4 separate regions of the Homo sapiens genome follow, and all the other regions are linked to region 3. Evidence: fine-mapped expression QTL. A gene starts in region 3. Each other region holds a variant in brackets. All regions are shown on one strand. Distances are from middle to middle.

What was found. PIP is the estimated chance that this variant, and not a neighbour inherited with it, causes the effect.
Region 1: its variant is fine-mapped to the expression of TREX2 in whole blood (TOPMed, PIP above 0.99).
Region 2: its variant is fine-mapped to the expression of TREX2 in sun-exposed skin (GTEx, PIP 0.96).
Region 4: its variant is fine-mapped to the expression of TREX2 in fibroblasts (GTEx, PIP above 0.99). The same link has a PIP of 0.9 or more in visceral fat.

The regions. Positions count from the first base shown.
Region 1 is chrX:153,467,773-153,473,181 of GRCh38, reverse strand. HAUS7 (HAUS augmin like complex subunit 7) reads left to right here and starts at 2,606. Exons shown (of 10, transcript NM_001385482.1): 1 at 2,606-2,732; 2 at 3,921-4,036. The coding sequence starts at 2,625. RefSeq lists enhancers at 2,077-2,371, 2,885-2,984, 3,135-3,314 and a silencer at 2,245-2,554. The variant G/A (reference allele first, on the strand shown) is at 2,681.
Region 2 is chrX:153,574,874-153,580,336 of GRCh38, reverse strand. ATP2B3 (ATPase plasma membrane Ca2+ transporting 3) reads right to left here. Exons shown (of 22, transcript NM_001001344.3): 22 at 1-359. The coding sequence ends at 39. Among named protein-coding and RNA genes, the nearest start is that of CCNQ, 22 kb to the left of the region's middle. The variant C/T (reference allele first, on the strand shown) is at 2,668.
Region 3 is chrX:153,443,337-153,448,805 of GRCh38, reverse strand. TREX2 (three prime repair exonuclease 2) reads left to right here and starts at 2,750. Exons shown (of 2, transcript NM_080701.4): 1 at 2,750-2,797; 2 at 3,311-4,333. The coding sequence starts at 3,376. The coding sequence ends at 4,086. It overlaps HAUS7 (HAUS augmin like complex subunit 7), which reads left to right. Exons shown (of 10, transcript NM_001385482.1): 10 at 897-1,138. The coding sequence ends at 928.
Region 4 is chrX:153,492,717-153,498,216 of GRCh38, reverse strand. BGN (biglycan) reads right to left here and starts at 3,237. Exons shown (of 8, transcript NM_001711.6): 1 at 3,104-3,237. It also overlaps a transcript of HAUS7 not described here. The variant C/T (reference allele first, on the strand shown) is at 2,804.

The DNA.
Region 1 (5,409 bases), 24 kb before region 3:
GCAGGGCCCGGATGCTCTGAGGACTTTTTCAATACCCTCCACAGGTCAGGGAGGCTGCCCACTTGGTGAGCTCAACTGTTTGGCCATATATCTCTGGGCCCACCACACAAACTGAGAGGTCTCGAATGCCACCAGCACCCGCCAGCCCATCTCTGGCACAGCGGGGCCAGTGCCGTGAACCAGTCTCATTTTCCAACGTGTTTTCCAAGCACTGACACGGCTGAGGCCCTGCTGGGACGCATGGCCAACTTTCCTCCATGACCAGGACCCCCCAGCTTCCCCGCCACATCCACAGCTTCCCCCCAACATCCCTCCTCCAGGTCAATGGGTCCTTCAGCCACATTTTTGGCTCCTGACCCACCCAGGCCTCCCTCAGAGAACCTGGGGTCTCTGGGTTGGAATGTCCCTTAGAGATGTGCCCCCTCCCTCCCCCATGGTAGGACTCAACCCTCCACATCCCCGCCCACCCACCTCCCTGGGCTTGTAGACCTTCTAGGACCGGGAGCTCCCTTCCTCTCCTGGCAGCCAGCTGGTGTTCAGACAGTGATTTCTGGGAGGAGTGCTTTCTTGGACTGAGCTTGAGTCCACATTTCCAGAAGCTTCTACCTCTGGGCCCCTTCTTTCCCCCTTCCTGAGAGGCCCAGCAGCCTCTCTGTTCCCTCCCCAGCCTCCAGCTTTTCCGGAGGAAGATGCCTGGGAGGTGCTATGATTCTGGGGGCGGGTGGTGGGTGGCAGGTGGTGGGTGGTGGGTGGTGGGTGGTGGGGTGGCGTGGGCAGGGAAGCTGCAGCCTGCTGCTGGGTCTTCAGCGACCATCTCCAGGGGCTGAGGGCTGGCCAACAGGTTCTCCATGAGGGGGATGGCCTCCATAACCTCTCAAGATGATCTTCGCCTCTCAAGGCCCTGCCAGTTCCTCAGGGTCCCATAGACTGAACTGCTGAGGTTGGGGAGGCCTGTTGAGCACACTGGCTCCGTGGAGCTGGGTGGAGGAGGGAGATTTTCTTCCAGAGTACACAGGAGCTGGTTTCTTCCCGGTCCTCAGGAGCAGAGAATATGGGGAGGGTTGGGGGAGGCTGCCACACTGCCGTGGTTTCTTCCGCCAAATTCCCCAGTCCTAGGAAAGATCCACAGAAAAACCCACAAGAATTTGAATGTCTGAGCTGGGGCTGTGATTGAGATGAAATTTTCTAAAAAGAAAGAAAGAAAAACAAAAACAAAAAAGAGGGAAAAAAACGCTTAAAAAAAAATCCCAAAGCCTTTGACAGCCCTCAGCTACCAGAAGGGCCTGAGGCAGCAGCCACGTGGAAGGGTAGAGAGCAACCTTGAGGCACTTCGCTGGGCCTGTGTCGGGGCCTCCCAGGCTGAGGTCCCTTCCTGTGACCCCCGGACTCCTGCCCGCTCCCTCCTCCCAGGACGGAGTGAAGTCCCCTCCTGTCACTTGGATGACTGCAGTTGCCTCCCAGCAGGTCCCTGGGTCTCCCTGACTATAGACTTGCCCCCTGATCCCACCCTCCAGGAGATGGCAGGGTAGGGCACAGAGGAGGGCACAGTGGCAGCTGCCTGCTGCTGTCTCCTGGCTACTGGGCACAAGCCACCCTCCAACTCCTTCCTGCCTTGCCCAATCAGCAGGTCCCTGGGTAAGGGGCATTCAGTGAACTGGGGGCTTTGCAGGTCTGGGGGAGGAGCGACTGACATATTTCATTGCAGACGCATTGAGTTTGAGGGTCCTGAGGGATGTAGAAAAATTTGTTAAGTAGACAGGATAGGAAGGAGCCACAGGTAGCCCCAGGAGCCGTGAGGGGAGCAGGGCCCAGCATGTATTACAATAGTGAGCATTTACGTGGTTCTTCGCATGCGCCGGGCACTGTTCTAGGGATTCCACAGGAATTATTACCGCCTGCCATCCTCATTAGCAACCCAGTGGGTAAGGTGCTCTCATTAGCTCCATTAGGTGAGGGCAAAGAGGCACAGAGAGGTTAGGTAACTGGTTCAAAGGCACACAGCTGGTGAGTGACAAGAAATTTCCTTCTAACTACAGCGTGAGCATGGTGAAGAGAAGACGGAGCCCCGCGCTGGGAGAGGAACGCTTCAGTCCGAGTTCCATTCTGCACCCAAGGCTCCCCTTGGTCCTCCTGGGAACCAGGGTGCCCCTTAGTGGTGGTGGCCCAGGAGAACCCGACCAAGGCAGGAGCGCCCCCTCCTGGAAGAGCCTCGCTTCAACGCATCATCATTCCCGGCCGGCAGCAGGGGCGACGCCAGCAAGGCCTGCGACTCAGAGCCAGCTTGGCCCGTTCGCCCCGCCCCTTCCCGGTGTCCGCCCCGCCCCTTTCCCGGTGTCCGCCCCGCCTCCTTCCCGGTGTCCGCCCCGCCCCCTTCCCTGTGTCCGCCCCGCCCCCTTCCCTGTGTCCGCCCTGCCCGCTTCACTGTGGTCCTGCCTCTGGGTGGTGCCGGGGCGGGGGGTGGGAGCCCGGGGCCCGCGCAGGCGGAGATGTCGCCCAATGGGAAGGGTCGGTCGGGAAGGGGGTGGGCGCAGGCGGGTGGGCGGGAAGAACGCTGGAGGTTGATTGGCGGTCTTGCCGGCCAGTGAAGCCAGGGCATGGGCGGGGCGCGGCTCGGAGCGCGAAACATGGCGGGGCAGGACGCTGGCTGCGGCCGTGGCGGCGACGACTACTCAGAGGACGA[G/A]GGCGACAGCAGCGTGTCCAGGGCGGCTGTGGAGGTGTTCGGGAAGCTGAAGGTGCTGTTGGCCCAGAAAGCCACTCCAGGGCGGGGGACCGGGGAGGGCCCCGCCCGAGGCCCGGGAGGGCTTGCTGCGGAAGTCCGCGGCGCCACGCGGCCACCGTCGCCGGTTCCGGCTGCGCCCTGTTCCCTTGCAGCAGGGGGTGCTTGTGGATCATTCATCTTTGCCCTTTGGTGTGCCCCAGGCCTTCGTTCTTGCTGTCTCCACGGCCCGTGCCTGGTAGTTGGGGCCAGCACCGCCTGTGGAACTGCAGTACCCGCGCTGGGCGCTCGGAGCAAGTGCAGACACAGAGGACCCAGGCCTGGCCTTAGGGATCTTGCGGGGTCTGGGGGGACAGATGGGCAGAGCCTCGTGCCACTCTGTCAAGTCAGCGAGACTAGGGCTTGGTGTCAGTTGGTGTCAGATGCCAGGGGTGATAGCCTCCAGAAGCCCTCTACAGCCCCACAGGACAGAGCCCTCACTGCAGCAGTGAGGAAAGCTGGCCCACGAGGTTAGGGAGCTGTCCCAGGTCCCCTCGGCCCGCTCGCTCCTCCCCCCAGACACTCCCCCATCCTGTCCGCGACTGGCTCAGTGGTCCCTCTCCCTTTCCCTCTCCCCTTTCCCTCAGTCCCGAAACCTAGGACTCTCTCTTAAGTCTTAGTCTCAGGCGTTGCTCCTAGGTCCTGCTGCCACAAGAGCCCAGAGTGGGAGTACTTGAAAGAGGTGGGGTCTGCATGCCGCGGGAGATGTGGGGTTAAGAATGGGGGGACTTGAACTCTTGGCAAGATGGCAGGACGCGGGTAAAGGAAAGGGTCCTGGGAGCTTGCAGATGTACACTGAGGACTGGGCGCGGCGGCCCACGCCTGTAATCCCACCACTTTGGGAGGCTGAGGTGGGCAGATACCTGAGGTCAGGAGTTTGACACCAGCCTGGCCAACATGGTGAAACTCCGTCTCTATTAAAAATACAAAAATTGTCCGGGCGTGGTGGCGCATGCCTGTAATCCCCCAGCTACCCTGGGAGCTGAGGCAGGAGAATTGCTGGAACCCAGGAGGTGGAGGCTGCAGTGAGCCGAGATCATGCCACTGCACTCCATCCAGGCTGGGCGACAGAGTGAGACTCCGTCTCAAAAATAAATAAATAAATAAAATGAAATGATGTACACTGGGACTTTCAGTGAATGTTGCTTTCCTTTTCCTTGCTTAGGACCTAAACTGCCCCTTCCTCGAGGGTCTGTATATCACAGAGCCAAAGACAATTCAGGAACTGCTGTGCAGCCCCTCAGAGTACCGCTTGGAGATCCTAGAGTGGATGTGTACCCGGTAATGCATCAGTTTCTTCCTCTTCCCACCTGGGGTGTGCATGGGCGCCAGCCAGCCCCACCTGGGGAAGATGGGGTTTGTGGTTACTGTGAGTAGCTGTCTTCCCAGAGGGCTCCACCCCCTAGCCTGGACCCTCGTGAGAACAGCTGTGTAGGTAAGGAGTACTGGTGACAGGCATGATCAAACTTGGGGCAAAGTGGCCCCTGGCGGTGCTGGGCTAGTCCAGCCACCCCTTTGCTGCAGTGCTGAACTTGCCCTCAGCGTTTGCCTTGCCTTATGAGTTTGGAGGTTCAGGACTGGCAGGCACCTGAGAAATGCTCCATTCCAGTCCTTTCCTTCTCAGACCCGGAAGCCAAGGGTCAGGCTGGAGGCATGAACAGTCTCTGGTCTCCCAGTGGAGGAGTGACAGGCAGGGCCAGGGCGTGGGCTCCTGGCTGGGTCTCAGCTGGCCAAGTGGTCCTCATGCAGTGTCACCTCTTGTCAGCTTCTGTGCCGTGACCCGTTTCCCAGTCCTCTGGTGCCTTTGGGCCAGGGTGTAGCATGGTGTGTGCCTGGCACCCTATGAAGCCCATGGTGACAGGGTGACTTCCTGAGTGATGGTGGAGGAAATGATCCAGAGTGTCCCATTCCCAGGGCAGACATCCTTCCCCTGGTGACGTAGTCCCTGAGCTGAGGGTCTGTCTCACTGCCTCACAGCTGTGAGTGGAGAAGGCTTTCCCCGCCTCCCACAGAGCACAGGCTCCTGTGGGATTGGGTGTGTGCCCAGGCCATGCTCAGGAACAGCTGTAGTCTGTTGGTACAGGAGCCTCTCGTGAGTCCAGGCCCGGGCCTCCCCCTCCTCAGCCTGCGGCCTGCCTACCCTTGCTGCTTGAGGAAGGGGCCTGGGCGGGAGCCTGGCAGTAGAGCAGTGGGGAGCCAACCTGCATCCAGCCGGTCTGGCCCGCCAGGACCAGAGACATCAGCAGGACGCCCAGCTGGATACAGGCCCCCAGAGGAAGGAGGAGGCGTTTTTGTGTTTGAGCCCTTGCTGTTCCAGAGGCGTCTCCTGCCTCTGCCTTCTAGGCCCTTCCTCAGGCCTCTCCCCAGGGCTCAGCACAGCAGCTCCTCGCTTCATAACCTTTTGCTCTTGCTCACATTGTTCCCCCTCCTGGAAATGGCCTTCTAGTCTCTGCATGTCGTACGTCCTCCTGTACAGCCCGCAAAGACCCAACTCACACGTCCTGTCTCCTTTTAAAATGTTTCCTGTTCCCAGGGCAGAATGTATTCCGCTTCCCTCTGGATGCCCACAGCCTTTGAGCACACCCTGCCCCTGCTGGAGCCCTCAACCTGTGGGTGCACTCTTGGCCTGCTGTCATTTCCGGCTCTTTAGTATG
Region 2 (5,463 bases), 130 kb before region 3:
CGAGTGTGCGTGTGCGCATGTGCTGAGACAAGTTCTTGTTAGAGGGACGTCTCCACGCTGTGGAGCGGGCTCCCGGGACTGGAGGAAAACACTGAAGAGGTAGCTGACTTGGTGACATGCGTGGTCAGGTAGATGCCGCTGTCTATGGCGTTGTTGTTCTGGTTGGGGGACGGGGGCGGGGGGGCCCGGAGGCGCTCCTCGTTCTCGTCCACGTCCGTGTCGTCAATGAGCGGGATGTTGTGGGTGTAGTCATTGATCAGAAACTCGGGCGTGGCCATGAAGTTGTGAATGGAGGTCTTGGATTCTGGTTTCTCCAGGCCTTCATAGAGCGAGCTACGGAACGCTTTCACCACCCGGATCTGGAGTGGGAGGTGGAGGGACAGGGCGCGAGGTGGGAGCAGGGAGGGAGGAAAGGAAGGGAAAGGAAAGGAAACGTGGAAGGAAGGTAGGAAGGAAGGAAGGAGACAGTCAGTGGCCGGCTGGTGCTGGTAAATTCCACCCACGTCAATGGCTGGGGGTCATGGCATGAGAAATGTCCACCCATTTGTTGGAGGGCTGCTACGGAATGGGATGGCTCTGCCTGCCTTTGGAAAGAGTTTTCAGGTGTGGGCCTTGGTCTCGTCAACCGATCCGCATGCAGGAAAAGATGGCAGTGTCTTTCTCTAGGCTGAGCTGGGCAGGTATTCTGGAACTTGAGAGTGCTGCACTAGGCTCTTGGCTGTGACCCCGCAGTTCCCTGTCCTGGGGAGACGAGTGGCTTTGGTGACCTCTGGGGTCTCTGCCCAATCTGAATTCCAATTTGGTAGAAAAGAAAGATGATTTGAAAAGGAGAGAATGCTGGTGAGTGGGATGTCTTCTCGATCTTACCAGAAAGTCCGAAGTACCTGCTGGTATGAGCAAGTTCCCAGCCTATGGGCACTGCCGGCCTTTCTCGCATGGGTCTCCCTCCATCCCCCAGCTCCCATGGCTGGAGCCGGGACCTGCCATGTCGAGGGTCTCCCTGCGGCTAACTCCACTGGCCACTTCTGCATCTTCGTCTGATTTGATCCCTCAGGGCACTCAACACAGAAGATCATCCCTCTTTCTGGAAGCTTCTCATGGCTTCCTGACATTGCCCCTGCCTGGCCCTCTTCCACCTCACCAGCTGCCCTGGCCCCATCTCCTCCACTGCCCTCTCTTCTGTCCCTGGGTGCCCCAGAGCTCTGGCCTGGCTCTGTCCCTCCTCCTCTCTGTCCATACCTCTCCACCCTGGCCACAGTGCTGGGGCCCATCTGGCTATAACCAGAAACTGTGGCCCAGGCCTGTACTCAGAGCTCCAGGCCAGAGAGCCCAGCAGTCCCCAGCTGGAGGTATCTGAGACCGAAAATGGCCACACTTTTGATTTGCACCCACTAAAGCCTGTCTCTGCTCAGATGCCCCTGTGGCCTCCTCACAGCCCCCGTGTCTGACTGGGTCTGGTTCAATCTGGTGCCCCTGCTCTTCTGACCTCACTCCGCCTGTCCTCTCTCCCGTCTCCTCCTCCATCTTCCAGTCAGACATTCCAAAACTTGCGTCTCTGCTGCCTCCCGGGCTCCGCTCTGTGTTGTTCCCTGGCCATCCCTCCCCACAGGAGTTTGCAGACCTCAGATCAGCGGAACTTCCCGCATGAAAGAGCTCCCGCTGTGCCCCAGACTCCCCCGGCACAGTGGCCCTCTGCCCCCAGCTGAGCGCACGGCAGCCCTTAAGCCCCCTGACCCTCCGGCAGGGCACTGCTCCAGGAGCGAGCCCTTCCCTCCTCTGGCTTCTCCACCTTGCCTCACGCACTCAAGTCCTTGCTGCCTCTCTTTGCTCCCTGGCCCCTCAGCCTGGGCCCCCTCCTGCTTCTAGAAGCCAGGAGTTGATGGGGAGGCCTCTGCCTGGCCTCGCACAGGCCAGTGTCAGCACAGCCGCCAATGGTAGCTGGCCCACCTTGTACTGCCATCCCTATAGGGGGCAGCAGACGGAGCGCTGAGCTGCCAGGCAGACCCTGGGGTTCATCCAACACCTGTCCACCCCTGCCTATGTGAGCAGGTGGACACATTAGGAGTTCTGAAGCATTTCTGGGGCCAAGGTTCGACCTAGGATTTGGTTTTCTGGGTTTAGACAAGGTGTCAGGGCTTGCTGAGGGGCTAACCCCAGCTCTCTGCTAGTTTTGGTTAATAAAATTTTACTGGTTTAAGTTTCATGCTGTAAGGGCACAGTTGTGTCACGGCAGCAGAGACCAGGCCTGGAAAGCTAAAAATATTTCCTCTCTGGCTCTGTCGTTTAGACAATTAATCACCTTTTTTCGGTGACTTTCTTTCAGCCCTCCAGGGGCTCAGCTAGGCAAAGCACAGTGCTTCGGAATCAGCTGAAATGATGCCAACCTCATCACCTCTCCAGTGCAAAAAGTGAGCCAGGGCCAGGTTTGGTGGTCCACGGCTGTAATTCCAGCACTTTGGGAGGCCGAGGCGGGCTGATCGCTTGAGCTCAGGTGTTCGAGACCAACCTGGGCAACAGAGTGATACTCCCCGTTCCTATTTAAAATAATAATAAAAAAAAGTAAGCCAAAAAGCTCCACATTGGAATTTTCTAGCACCCCATCTGAAATCTGGTTCGGATTTTCTCTGCATTCGGGAAAGCCACATCTGCCAGACGGCAGATGGTCAG[C/T]TATTCTCACTCAGGCCTTTATCCCCAGACTGGTTTCTGAATTAGGGGTAACACAGAAATTGAGAATAATTTGACGTTTTTAATGAAAAGAAACAGAATTCAGTTTTCGTAGCCAATGCAGATGTTGCCTCATTATTTAGGCCTTTTCTGGTACAGGATTGTGGTGTGGAAGCCGCCTGGGACATCGCCTGCTAAAGCTGTTGCCCATCAAGTCACAAAAAGGACAAAGTGCTGCAGGCCTTGACCCCAGGGCTGTGTGGGGTGAGATCTCGCTGAGCTGGTGGCCTCATTCAGACCTGGGGGCATGTGATCAGGCCAGGCCCCTGCTCAAACCTATGCACAGGTCTCACTGCACCTGGCTCAACTCCAAAGACCTCCATAAAGGACAGCCAGGCCACGGAGCCAGCCCTTCCTTCCAGGCTGGGCTTCTGCTGCTACTGCTCCTCCGGTCTCACCGGCTACTCCAGCGTGCCCCTCCCGGATGGCATCTGCCTTGTTTGTGGCTTAACAACAGAGCCTGGCCCAGAGCAGCTGCTCAGCAGACACTTGGGGAATGCACAAGTGACTGAGTGAACCGCTGCAGGATGGAAGGGCTGCCCCCCAACATTCTGCTGTTTGGGGGTGCTAAGCTTGGCTGGAGTCCTGGTGAGTCTGTTACAGCTGACAGTGAGTCAGCTTTCTCCAGGCTCTATTTTCCCTGCATCCTAATCCTGGGCCATTAAACAATGTTTTGGTGTTGGTGTTAAGGTGGGGTGTTTTCAGCCCACCCAACACTGAAGGATGCAGTCGATTCCTGGGAGATTGGTTCAATGGAAAGCAACAAACGTTTCTAAGAGAGGCCCATCCCAGAGGGCTGCACTCCTACCTGGGTGCTCAAGGATGCCCTCCTTCCACCAGCCTGGGTTCACTCTGTCCTCATCTCAGGCTCCTGCACCGCCTCCTGCTCTGCTCTCAGCCCAGGACGCGCCACGCCCCCTACTGCTCCCAAAGGAATCTCATGGCCCCCAGGGCTGTCAATGCTGTCTATAGACCATCAGGCCACCGTAAATACTGCAGATACCAGCTGCACCATGTCCACCTTTTCCTGGACTGCCAGACTTCTGCCCTGGCTGCCTCCCGGGTGTTCCCCCTCGGATGCCTAAGGGACCTCTCAAATTGCAGGAGGCCCGAGGAGGACTCTTATCAGTGCTCCAGCTGAACTCTGCCCACCAGCAGCCTTCCCATCCCAGTGCAGGGCTCTGGCCAAACCTCAGAGGCACTTTGACCCCCTGACCCTATGTACCAGACATCCACGTGTCCTGTGGGCCCTACCCTAACTCAAAAGCATCTTCCACATCTGAGCCTCTCCTCACCTCCATTGCTGCTGCTATGTCCTGCCTGGGGCCCTGGGGTCACATTGGGACCCCAACCCCCACCAGCAAAGCCCTCCATCCTTCCTGTCCCTTCTCTAGGTGGAGTTTCCGAGCTCTCTCTGGCTGCCAAGTCAGACTCTTGGTCCCCCATCTGGCTCTAAACCTTCCAGTAGGCGATGGAACTGGCCCGTGTCCTGACTGTGTGGAAATTCATTGAACTGTACCCCCAAAAGCCCGTTTTACTGTGACAATTTAAAAAGAAAGGAAATGAAAGCACTCTTCCGGGAGAGATGCCCCTAGGAGGGTCAGGTTGGGCTGGAGGACTCCCCATCTCATCCGGGTGAGGCGAGGTGGCTCCCCACTGTGTGTCCCCACCTCCTTGTGTCCTCCTGCTGTCTCCCTCTGCCACACTTCTCCGTTCCCCATCATGGCTGATGGCCCTGAGAGGCCACAGTCCTTTACTCCTCACAGTCCCCCAGCGCTGTCCGACACTGCTCCAGCCCCTCCTCCTCTCCCATCCCTGACACCCGAGGGCCCCTCCTCTGGGTCTAGGTACTCTCTTCTGGCTCTCGGCCTTCCATTCCACCTGTCGGCTAACAGCCTCTCGGCTCCGGCTCCAGACTTGGGCATCTAAGCTGGGTCTCAAACTTAGCAGGCCCAACCCCCCCGGCCCCAGCCCCGTGGCTCCCTTCAAACGCCATCCAGAACCTGCACTTCGCCCCCACCCCTCCATGCCCTTAGCACGGCGGCCCGAAAACCAGAGCGTGTCTTGGTCTCCCCCGCTACAAGCCCTCCACTGGCTGTGGCCCTCGGAGCCGGCCCCAGTCTTTCTCACTCTGCCCTCTTTTACCCCTCAGCCTCCGGCACATCCCACCTGGGGACCTTTGCTGTGGCTGCACCCCACACCAGGAAGGCTCCCCTCACTCTTGTCTTCCCCAGCAGCATGGTGCCCACTTCTGCTCCTTCCTTCAAGTGCCCCCTACATCCATCCACCTTTCACTGGAAGGTAATCCCCCTGGGGCAGGGGTCTGTCTGTCTGGCTCGCTGCACCCAGCAGGGGCTCAGTGGACGGGGCTGAATGTCTGGGGCCCACACGGCTTTGCACCAGCCTCCTGTGCTGGCTTCGGCCCTCCCCATAGCTCTTTGCCCACTTTGCAATGCCCAGCCGGCTGGAGCTGTTTCTGAACACCCCACGCAGGGGCTCCCCGGAGCCATGACCCCTGCCCTTTCTGCTGCCTGGCTGGCCTTTCTCCTTCCTCTGAACTTAGCTCAAGTACGCATCCTTAGAGAGGCTGTCCCGGGCAGTTTGTTACCAGCTGCCCAGAGGAGACATGCTGAGTGCTGTGGGCTTGGCCCGGGCTCCCGACTTGCGTGGATGAGCAGTTCTGAGCCTTACACAGGGCGGGTGACGCTGCAGACTGACAAGGCCCATCCCTGGCCACAC
Region 3 (5,469 bases):
GGTCGGTGTGACCCAGCCCAGGGCTCCCAAGCTGCTGGCCTGGTCCCCACAGAGCCTGAGCAGCTCCCAGCTCGGCAGTGCCTGTCCCTTCCCTGCCATCCTGGTGGTGCCTGGGGCTCAAGGAGGATCAGCTGAGGACATGTGCCTTGAGTGGTGGGCAGGAGGCACCTCGCCTCTTGCGCCAGGCTCGCTTTCCTGTTGGTTTCTTTTCTATTTATTTATTTGTTTATTTTATTTATTTATTTTATATATATATATTTTTATTATACTTTAAGTTCTAGGGTACATGTGCACAACGTGCAGGTTAGTTACATATGTATACATGTGCCACGTTGGTGTGCTGCACCCATTAACTCGTCATTTACATTAGGTATATCTCCTAATGCTATCCCTCCTCCCTCCCCCCACCCCACAACAGGCCCCAGTGTGTGATGTTCCCCTTCCTGTGTCCAAGTGTTCTCATTGTTCAGTTCCCACCTATGAGTGAGAACATGCGGTGTTTGGTTTTTTGTCCTTGCGATAGTTTGCTGAGAATGATGGTTTCCAGCTTCATCCATGTCCCTACAAAGGACATGAACTCATCTTTTTTTATGGGCCGCGTAGTATTCCATGGTGTATATGTGCCATATTTTCTTAATCCAGTCTATCAGTGTTGGACATTTGGGTTGGTTCCAAGTCTTTGCTATTGTGAATAGTGCTGCAATAAACATACGTGTGCATGTGTCTGTATAGCAGCATGATTTATAGTCCTTTGGGTATATACCCAGTAATGGGATGGCTGGGTCAAATGGTATTTCTAGTTCTAGATCCCTGAGGAATCGCCACACTGACTTCCACAATGGTGGAACTAGTTTACACTCCCACCATCCTTTTGGTTTCTTTTCTTTCCTCTGCAGCTACCAAGATGAATGAACTAATGGAGAAATAGAAAGTCTTCAGTGATGGCCTACGCCAAAGCACAGGATGGGGCGGGCAGGAAGCCCTCTCCCAAGATCGAGTTGGCCGAGGATGGATGATTGTGGCAGCAGAAGCCGTTGCAGCCCCACGTTGTGCTCTAGGCAGGGACCTTTGGCCCCTTTGGGGAGGGAGAGACAGACGGGCGGTTTGACTTGGACACAAAGAAAGCCTTGGTTTCTAAGCAGTTGCCTCCAGCCTGCTTTCTGCTTCCTCAGCTCTATGTCTCTCTCCTTCCCCTTGTCCTGAGCTGCTCAGGTGGCCCAGGTCTGGGCAGGCTGGCGGCGGCCCTCCTGTCATCTTGGCGGGCCTGGGCTGCGTCCTCTTCCTGTGGCTCCACTCCTCCCTGCTGCTGCCAGCCACTTGAAAGCAGAGAACCCACTGTCGCCTCCCCCGGCTGGCCTTAGGGTCCTGTGCGAGACGCACCCCTCAGCCGCCCTCCTTGAGTGCCCCTGGATCCCCCGCGGGGTACCAGTTTCCTGCTCCTCCCTGGCTGGGCGCTCAGCTCTGGGCTGGGGAATTCAGCCTGACTGGTTGTCCAGGAAGATGCTGTCTGGGCTTCCCAGGGTGACCCAGTATCTCCCTGAGCAGTGTGCCTGTCACAGCTGCCTCCCTCCCTGTGAGTACCGGAACAGGCGTGACTGGTAGGGCCTCTGCCTCCTTGGGGCCATTGTACCTGCTGCTGCCCGCCCCACCCTGCTCCCTCCTGGCACCATCTCCTTTGCTTCCCCAAGGTCCCTGTGGGCACACAAGGCAAGGAGGCCAGGAGGAGCCAGGTGCCAGACCCCCCTCCATCCCAGTCGCCTGAGGCATCCCCCAGCCACCACTGTGAGAGGTGGGAGGCCGGGCAGGCCTGTGGTCACCATGGTGCAGGTGCACCACCTGATTTATAGGCCAAGGGACTCCTCTTGGTCACCTCTCTGTGCCCCCAGCATGGGGCTGGCCCTGCAGTGCACCCACCATCAAGGGCTGTTGTCTCTTGCTCCAGAATGAGGTCTTCAGGGCGCCACTGCTCGCAGGACCGGGAAGGACCTGGTGCCCTTTGCCTGGAGCGGGATAGACAGGGCAGGTCCCTGAGCCTGGGGTCCGAGGGGCTGGGCTTCACTCCTCCTGTAGTCCCGGCGCTCCTGGCCCACCCCCTAACGTTGCTTATCTGTGGTGGAGGAAGCATTAGCTCAGCTGCGGCCTGCACAGCTCCCGGGCCAGGCCCACCTCCCTTCCTTCCCCAGCAGCCACTGTTAGGTGCACGGTAGACATGATGAAGCGACGTCCTTAAAGCAGATAGCATCTCCCGAGGCTGCCCCATCCCTAGGTTTTGGGGGAGCACCCCTTCCCCTTTGGAGGCTGAGCACGGCATGTGTGGGCACCTTGGTCACACTCCAGAGCTCGCTTCATCCCCACGAGCGGCACCTGATCTCCAGTGACGGGGAGACTGAGGCCTGGCAAAGAGGACCTGTTGCCTTTGTGTAACTGGCCCCAGCATGGGGGAGGCATTGGCCCCAGCATGGGGGAGGCATTGACCCCAGGCCTGCCAGGCCTGGCAGCCACAGCCTGGCTAGGTGGAGGTTACTGCCTTCCGCACCACTCTGGCTTCCTCCCCGTGCCTGTGAAGAGCTCGGGGCCTGCTTCCTAATTTGTAAACACGGGGCGTGTGTCTCAGTGGCTGTGAGCTAGCGAGGGGGTGGCGAGCGAGCCGGCTGCGCAGGTCCTGAGGCCCCAGGCCTCATTGTTGGCCAACAGGCAGCTGGGGGCGGGCTGCGGCCGCTGATTAAAGGCCGCCTAGAGCAGCCTGTGTGGCGACAGGTGCCCAGAAGCCCAGGAAGCCGGTCAGTGCCCGCCCCAGGTAAGCTGGTGTGGTGGGGTTGGCAAGGACAGTCTCCCCGGGAGCCTGGGGGCAAGCAGGCAGAGGCCAGCTCGGGACCAGCACCTGTGTGCCAGGGACAAGGGTGGGGAGGTCGAGCCCAGCGGGAGCTGGGTGCACTGCATGGGCTCTTTCGGGTGGCTGCTTGCCTGCTTCCCGGCAGCTGGTTCCAGGGCTGGAGACCCAGTGTGCTATGCCCCAGGTTCCCAGCCAAGGCATTCCGGTGAAGGGGCTGGACCCCGCCAAGGTGCGGTCCCTGAGCTGCCTCTGCCTCTCCCAATCCCTGCTGGGGACTGTGGCTGGAGGCAGGCAGTAGAGCGCTCTGAGGCCTGCCTTTTCTGTTCAGTAGGTGACAGGAGTGGGGCTGACGCTCCCAGAGCCAAAGGTCACAGGTGCTGTGGTCGGGGGTGGCAGGAAGTGAGCCCCAGAAGGGTCAGAGCTTTGGCTAGGGGGAGGATGGTACACAGCAGGGCCCGGGCGAACCCCTCTCTCCAGTCCTCAGGGTTTGTGCCTCTCGCTCGGACAGTTTGAGGACTTGCTATCCCCGTGGGAACATCACCATGTCCGAGGCACCCCGGGCCGAGACCTTTGTCTTCCTGGACCTGGAAGCCACTGGGCTCCCCAGTGTGGAGCCCGAGATTGCCGAGCTGTCCCTCTTTGCTGTCCACCGCTCCTCCCTGGAGAACCCGGAGCACGACGAGTCTGGTGCCCTAGTATTGCCCCGGGTCCTGGACAAGCTCACGCTGTGCATGTGCCCGGAGCGCCCCTTCACTGCCAAGGCCAGCGAGATCACCGGCCTGAGCAGTGAGGGCCTGGCGCGATGCCGGAAGGCTGGCTTTGATGGCGCCGTGGTGCGGACGCTGCAGGCCTTCCTGAGCCGCCAGGCAGGGCCCATCTGCCTTGTGGCCCACAATGGCTTTGATTATGATTTCCCCCTGCTGTGTGCCGAGCTGCGGCGCCTGGGTGCCCGCCTGCCCCGGGACACTGTCTGCCTGGACACGCTGCCGGCCCTGCGGGGCCTGGACCGCGCCCACAGCCACGGCACCCGGGCCCGGGGCCGCCAGGGTTACAGCCTCGGCAGCCTCTTCCACCGCTACTTCCGGGCAGAGCCAAGCGCAGCCCACTCAGCCGAGGGCGACGTGCACACCCTGCTCCTGATCTTCCTGCACCGCGCCGCAGAGCTGCTCGCCTGGGCCGATGAGCAGGCCCGTGGGTGGGCCCACATCGAGCCCATGTACTTGCCGCCTGATGACCCCAGCCTGGAGGCCTGAGCACCAGGGCCACCTCCTGTGCCATGGACAGTGCCAGCCTCCACCGTTCAGCTGGCCTCTACCACCCCCGGCTCCTCCTATCTGGGCAGCCTCAGGTCCGTGCACCTGCCAGGCCTTCCCTGGCTGCCTGACCAGCCATACGGCCCTGGATTCCTCTCCAGGCCCCGCTTCCAGGGCCGTGCTCTCCCGGCTGGCCTGGGTGCCCAGCAGAGTTTGCTGTTTCCCAATAAACATTGCCAACTACTCACCCTCCGACTAGCTGGCCAGATACTAGGGGCTGGACTCCCTCGACCCCCTGCTGAGCAGGGCCAGGCGGTGAGCCATGCCAGGGGCCAGCACAAGACCTCCAGGGCCGCCCCCCTATGGCCTCTCCTCGCGGTGAGGACCGTGGGTGGCTGGGTAGGGAGACGTCAAGCTCTTGGGTTGGTCTGAGGGCTGATGGGTTGTGGCTGTGGGCTGATTGCCGCCCATCTGCATTGTCACCCCAGAGGCCCAAAGAAGCCATGAGTAGGGCCTTAAGCCCACAGAGCCGGCCGCCTGCCTGGGCACAAAGCTCAGCTGCAGCGCTTGCCCGCCGTGGGACCTGGAGTCTCTGTCCCTGCTCTGTGAAGTGGTAACAGGGTGAAATGTTAAGAAACGGGGTGCTGGGGAAAAGGGAGGTGCCCCCACATGTGGGCATGCACATGTACATGTACATGCTAAGGGCCCTGACGGTGCACGGAGCAGAGGTGGGGTGGCTGGTGCTGTGAGGGTGACCCTGGAAGGGAGCCTATCCTGCAGCCCGTGTCCCCGTAGGGCCAGGAGGCCGCTCGGTGGGAGGGCAGCTTCTGGCCACCGCACTGTGCTTTGGGTTCCCTGCTAACCTGCCTCAGGGGCCCCACCCTGAGGCACTTCCAGTCTTGGGAGGCCTCATGGGTGGGGAGAGACCTGTCACCAACGCTGGGTCAGGTAAGAAGGGATGGGGTGGCCACGCCTGAGAGTGACTCACATGAGCAAAGCCTGAGCCTCCAGCCAGCTGGACAATCTGGGAAGCCCTAAGTAGGTCAGAATGACTGGAGCCACTGCAGCGTGCACGGTGGTAGGATGGTGAGGCCAGAGCACAGGCAGTGACCACCTCAGACCTTCCTTGTGGCCCGGGCCAGGCCTGACCCTGATGGCAGCGGGGAGCCGCGGAGGGTCATGAGCAGGAGAGGGGAAAAGTCTGGTGTAGGCTTCTGCCATATGCTGCTTGGGCTGCGTGCCGAGCTGTTCTCGAGTTGCTGTGAAGAAATACTTGAGGCTGGGTCATTTACAAAGACAGCGGGTTTATTTTGGCTCAGCAGTGCTGGCATCTGTTAACTGGTGGGGCCTCAGGAAGCTTCCACTTATGGCAGAAGGCAAAGG
Region 4 (5,500 bases), 49 kb before region 3:
CCTCCAGCTTATCTCAGGCCAGTGTTTAAGTGGAGCTCAGGCTTAAGATGCAGTGGACCAGGAGAGTTCCATGCAAGAAGGCTGGCTAGAGCCCCAGGCCCCTAAGCCTCAGAGATGAGCCTCATGGGAATGGGCAGCACCTTCACCAGGCCTGCCAGGGAGCCGGGACCTGACCCTGCCCCTTGGGCTGGCTGGGATCAGAGCTGCGCAGGTGGGAAGCTGGGAGTGGGAGGGTTCTGCAGTCCTCGGAAGAGCCAAGGCTGGTGGCCCCTCCATAGCCACCCCAGAGGCTGCTCTGACCTAGAGCCATGACGGGGCAGGGGAAGAAGGCAAACAGCGAAACAGCGAAGGGGGCAGCTGGGATGGTTCCCAGGAGTCTAGAGTCCCAGAAGGGGCTTCTGGCTGTGGGATTCAAGTGGTGGAGGGGATCTTCTGGCCTGGAAGGGGACCTGGGGAAGGAGGAATGAAGCACAGGCCCCACCCCTCCAGAGGAGGTGGCCCCAGGCCTTCCCCAGGGAACCCTGGGAAGCTGGTTCTTTCTGGAAGGCTGCAGAAGGGCCTGGCCATGGGTCCTGGAGGCCACTTAGGCTAGGCGGGCCTCAGGCCAGGAGGACTGAGCCATGCGCCCTCCCCACAGCGCAGCCCCTCTGCACACACCCCACAGCTGGTCCCTCTAAGACTTGCGGAAAGGGCTCTGAGTGGCCGAGCTGTGGCCCCTGATCTCCCAACCCAGCATCTGAGCAGAAGAGGACAGGAGCTGGGGCACTGATCGCCCCAGGCCCGGTCGGCAGGGTGGGGGCCAGGGCCGGCAGGATCCCGGGTTGCGCTGCCTTCCGAGGGAGCCGGTGCCCACCCAGCGGCCTGCAGCCCAAGGCAGGGTGCCCTGGGAAAGCCACCGCCACCCCCAGCCCCTCGGTGTGAGCAAGACCCCCAGCTGGTGGGTCCCCACCCACCAGTGGGGCTCCCAGGCCTGTCGGGGGCTCGGTGGTGGGCCTGGATGCTAGGGGGGCAACGTGCGGCAGGGACCAAGCTCTCCGGCCCACAGATGAGTGGGAGGGGGTCGTGGTGGGCATGGGAAGACATTTCCGACAAGCAGGGGTGTTGGGGGGTGAGCAAGGCAGGGGAGGGGCCCTGGCAGGTGGGGTGCCAGGGACCCCAGGGCTGGGGCTAGGCCTGTGGGTGGGGCGTGTGCTGGGGATTCTGTGGGCCGAGGACATGTGACTCCCGGGCAGGCTGGAGATGCTGGGGGGTGGGGGGTGGGGGGTGGGCCCGGGAAGCACAGGAGACGGCAGGTGGGGAGGTCCTCATCCCACCTCTATACGGGGTGGCAAGGACTCAGAAGCCCTTGCTGAAGGCTCTGAGTGCTAACTGTCAAGTGTGAACTCATTACAAACCCCTCCTCTGGGGACTTGGCGCTGTCACTGGAAGGGACACGCTATAGCTTTGTTTGAGTGACTCTGGAATGTTGCTAAAGACAGGAAACTCATTCTTGCCTTGGAAACACCCCCCTTCCTTTCCCAGACTCCCCATCTATGCGTTGGTAGGGTTAATGCCCACTGCCGTACGGGTCCTTGGGGCTTGAAGGTGGGCCAGGGAGGCCAGGGCTGCCACCCACAGCTGGCCAGCTTGCCATGGGAGCCCTCTCTGCTCCCTGGCTCGCAACCTGCTCCCACCGCCCAGCCCTGGTGGCTTGGAGGCAGCCCTGCATCTTCCTTTCAATATACCCACACGGGCTTGCCCTCAAAGGCTCACCATGCTGGCCCACAGTGGCCATACATGGGCATGCTCCGCACCAAGACATCCATGCTCATACACCAGCTCTCCTGGGGTGCGGCTGGCACCGGCGGCTGGGTGTCACCAGGAGGTGCTCACCCGCACCCCTGGGCGCTGGTCCCCGGGAGCCTTTCTGGCACGGGGGCAGGGGGGCTGAGCATCTCCAGCTTGTCTCAGTTCCAATTAGTTGCTATAGGGCAGAGAGCTGGCAGGCCAGGGAGGGGCGAGGGCCCAGAAACAGGACCCCCTGAGGATGGGACCTGAGCAGTCTGGCAGCCAGGACAGCAGGAGAGAGGCCTGCCCACCAAGACAGACCACTGGAGACTGATGTACCCTGTGCCCTGCAGATCCCTGGGCCCCCTGCTCTGCTCAGCAGGCGCTCAGGCACCCAGCCCCGCCCATGGAGCAGTGAGGGGGCGCTCCCCTCCGTGGGCCTTCCAGGGCACTCTCTCGCTCCCTCTCCTGGGTCCCTTGGCAGGCCCCTCTGGGACCCCAAGCCAGGTCCGCCCTGGGGAGCATGGCACAGTTGCCTGATTTTCTCTCCTTCCCCTCCACACCCATTCTGAGTCCCAGTCCAAGGGGGTCCTGGAAACAGACAGGGCTGAGCCACCCAGGCACCCCCAGTCAGGGCCCTTGCAGCCAGGGCTCCCAGGACCCAGACTTCTCACAGAGGATGTAGAGGCAGAGCATTAACCTGGGGGTGAGCGAGCGAGGAACATCTGGGCAGGGTGCCTGGGGTGTGCCTGGGAAACTAAGTCTTTCAGCCCATGCCAAGGACTGGCCTCAGGCAGTGCAGCGGAGGACTGCTCCTGGGTGCTGAGCTCGGTGGGCGCTGGGCGGTCCTCCCCGATCCGACCCAACCCGGGCCAGGCGCCAAGCCCTGGAGCAAGGAGGCGCCTGGGCAGAGCGAGGCTGAGGGAGTGGAGCATGCGCCTGGGACTTGCAATGATGAAACAGGGCCATTGGCAAAGCTGGGGTACCAGTCACCCAGCCACGCTCTAGGGTGGTAGCCAAGAAGACGGACCCCGAG[C/T]GGGAGGCAGAGAGACAAGAGGTGGATGAAGCAGAGCAAGGTCAGAAGGGAGAGGGAGAGGAAGGGGTGAGGGAAAGGTGCCTGGAGGGCGGCGAGACGAGGCAGAAGCCTGACAGGGACCAAGGGGGCCGCAGGGTGGCGATGAAGGGGCGTGGATCAGCAGCCTACAGAGAGCACCGGGGAAATCTGTGGACACCCTCGCGGCACTGGGGACAGCAGGACCAGGGCTTGGGACAGCGGAGGCAGCAGAGCCAGGGGCATCTCTGGGTTGCTGAGGAGGCAGCTTGAAGCCAGCCCTACCTGGAGAGGGGAGGCGCCAGGCGCAGGCTGACTAGTTGGCGGGCTGGGGTGGTGGGCCGTCCGCACGTCTATCTGTCCGGTGTGTCCGGCGGACCGAAAGCAGCTACTCACTCCTGGGCAGTTTGTGGAGAGAGGGAGACAGAGGCGGCGGGCGGGAGGCTAAAGGCTGGGCAGGCGGGCCGACGGGGAGGGGACAGCGGGGAGAGGGCGGGGAGGGAGGAAAGGAGGGAGGGGGCTGGTGGGGCGGAGAGGGCGGGCGAGCAGGAGGGGGCAGGCTTCCCGGCCCCCCTGGCAGCTTCAAAGGGAGCAATTTTCTTGTAGACGGCTGGACTAGCTGAGCCCCCGCCCCCTCGCCCCCACCACCTCCCCCCCCCTCCCCCGCCTGGGGCAGACAGCAAAGGAACGGACACACTCGCACTCACTCAAACAAGGACCCAGAGAGTCAAACTTTCCACTGCCCAGATGGGGACACTGAGGTGCTGGCTGGCATCTCGCCAGGCAGAGGAAAGAGAGATGGAAGAAAGACGAGGGGGAGGCGGCCTTGGGCTGCTAGGCCCATGAGTGGCCCCTGGAATTTGGTCCTGAGCCTGCCAGGAACCTGCTTGGGCCTAAGCAAGGAGGTGGTTTCTCCAGGATCAGAGAGGTAGCTGTTGTGGATTTCTGGAAGGACTTCATGTAGGCTCCTGGCGCCCTGTGCCCTCCCTTCCACTCCAGACTTTCTTCCCTTAAAAAGAGGGCCCGATCCGGCTGGTGGTGGCAGGACGGGGCAGGGGGCTCCCCAGCTTGCCTGCCCTGAACTGATTCAGAGACGAAGGATCCAGCGAGTCAGTCTTCTTGCTCAATCCCTGCAGGTCCCCTCGGACATGAGAACCACTCTGTGGGTGGCCACTTCCTCTGGGCTCAGCCCTGTGCTGGTCACTTACGGGGGCTAACCGGGTTACCCCACCAAGACTCAGCCGCTTCCTGAGGGCCCAAATGAGTCCAGTTCCTCCAGTGGCTAGAGCCCAGGTCCTTAGTACGACACTGCCCCCCTGTCCCGTAGTGTCCCCTTCTTCCCTCAGCAAGAGCAGCTCCTGAGACACAGGGGTAAGAGTTTAGATGGAGTGAGAAACAGATCTGCAATAGAACTGGGGGCCAAGAGTGCGGAAGACCAAAAGAGAAAATTGCATATTGAGAGAAAAAGCTCGAAGGGGCAGAGAGGGAGAGAGGGGTGGCTAGAGAGAGGCGGCATCCAATGGAGAGAGGACAACGTCGAGGGCTGAGGGTCTTCAACCCCTGGCAGTGCCATCACTCAACCGGGGGGTGGGGTCTGGGAGGTCCCAGGCCAGGGAGGATGCTCCCAGGGGAGCTCTACCTGGGGGCATGGCAGGGCACAGACCCCCTTCCTGTTCACCAGCGGCAGCCCAGGGCCTGGCTAGGACCTGGGACGCATGGCACCTTGACCAAACTGTGGTACCTGCCTGCAAGAAGCTTCTAGACTGGGCCAGGGAGAAGAGAGACGTGGGAAACCAGGGGCCAGGCTGGTAACCCTGGTTCTCTCTTGATTTCATGGTTGGAATGAGGAGATTGGAGACCACATATGCCCTTTCCAGACAAAGGAGATGGCTTGTCTTTCGGCAGGTTTGTGTGTTTTACCTTTTGCCCAGCCTCAGCGTCCGACTCTTGGCAGCCTGGTCTCATCTCTGTCCCACCCTCTTTCCCTCCCCCACTGCCAACTCATTCGTGGAGAAATATGTCGGTAGAGAGCGGGACAGGCAGCGAAGCCTGACTAGCAGTCTGGGTGGAGAGAGAAGCATTTGGAAACATTCCGCTCAGTGACAGCAGCCAGTCGCAAAAGGCCGCAGAGCCTCTGGTTCCATTCATTTGAAATGTCCACACTAGGCTCATCTGTGGGGACAGAAAGCGGATTTGTGGGCAGTGGGTGCTAGAGGGGTGGTACCTAAAGGTATGGGTTTTCTTTTTGAGGTGATGAAAATGTTCTACAATCGACTGAGTGATGGTTGCACAGTTCTGTGAATAGACCATATAAAAGCCCTTGCCTTGTACGTGCTCAATGCGCAAATCGTGTGGTAAGCACAGCCACTCTCAGTAAAGCCGTTTCAGAAAAAAGGAGAAACCCACTCAAGGCATGCCTGCTGCCCGAGGTGCTGGTACCCAGTACCTTCCTGCACTGCTTGGGGACTGAGAACCCAGGAGCTGTCACTCAGGGCCTCAGCCTCCAGGAGTCCCAGTGGGGGTGAAACAGCTCTGAATACCGTGGGGGCGCAGGGCCATGCACAGTGCCAGAGGCTCGGGAGGGCTACCTGGAGGAGGTGACCTGGAGCAGACCAGTAGGGAAGAGGGAAGTTGCCGGTGGAAGGAAGAGCACACGTGCGGGGGGGTGTGGGGAGACACAGG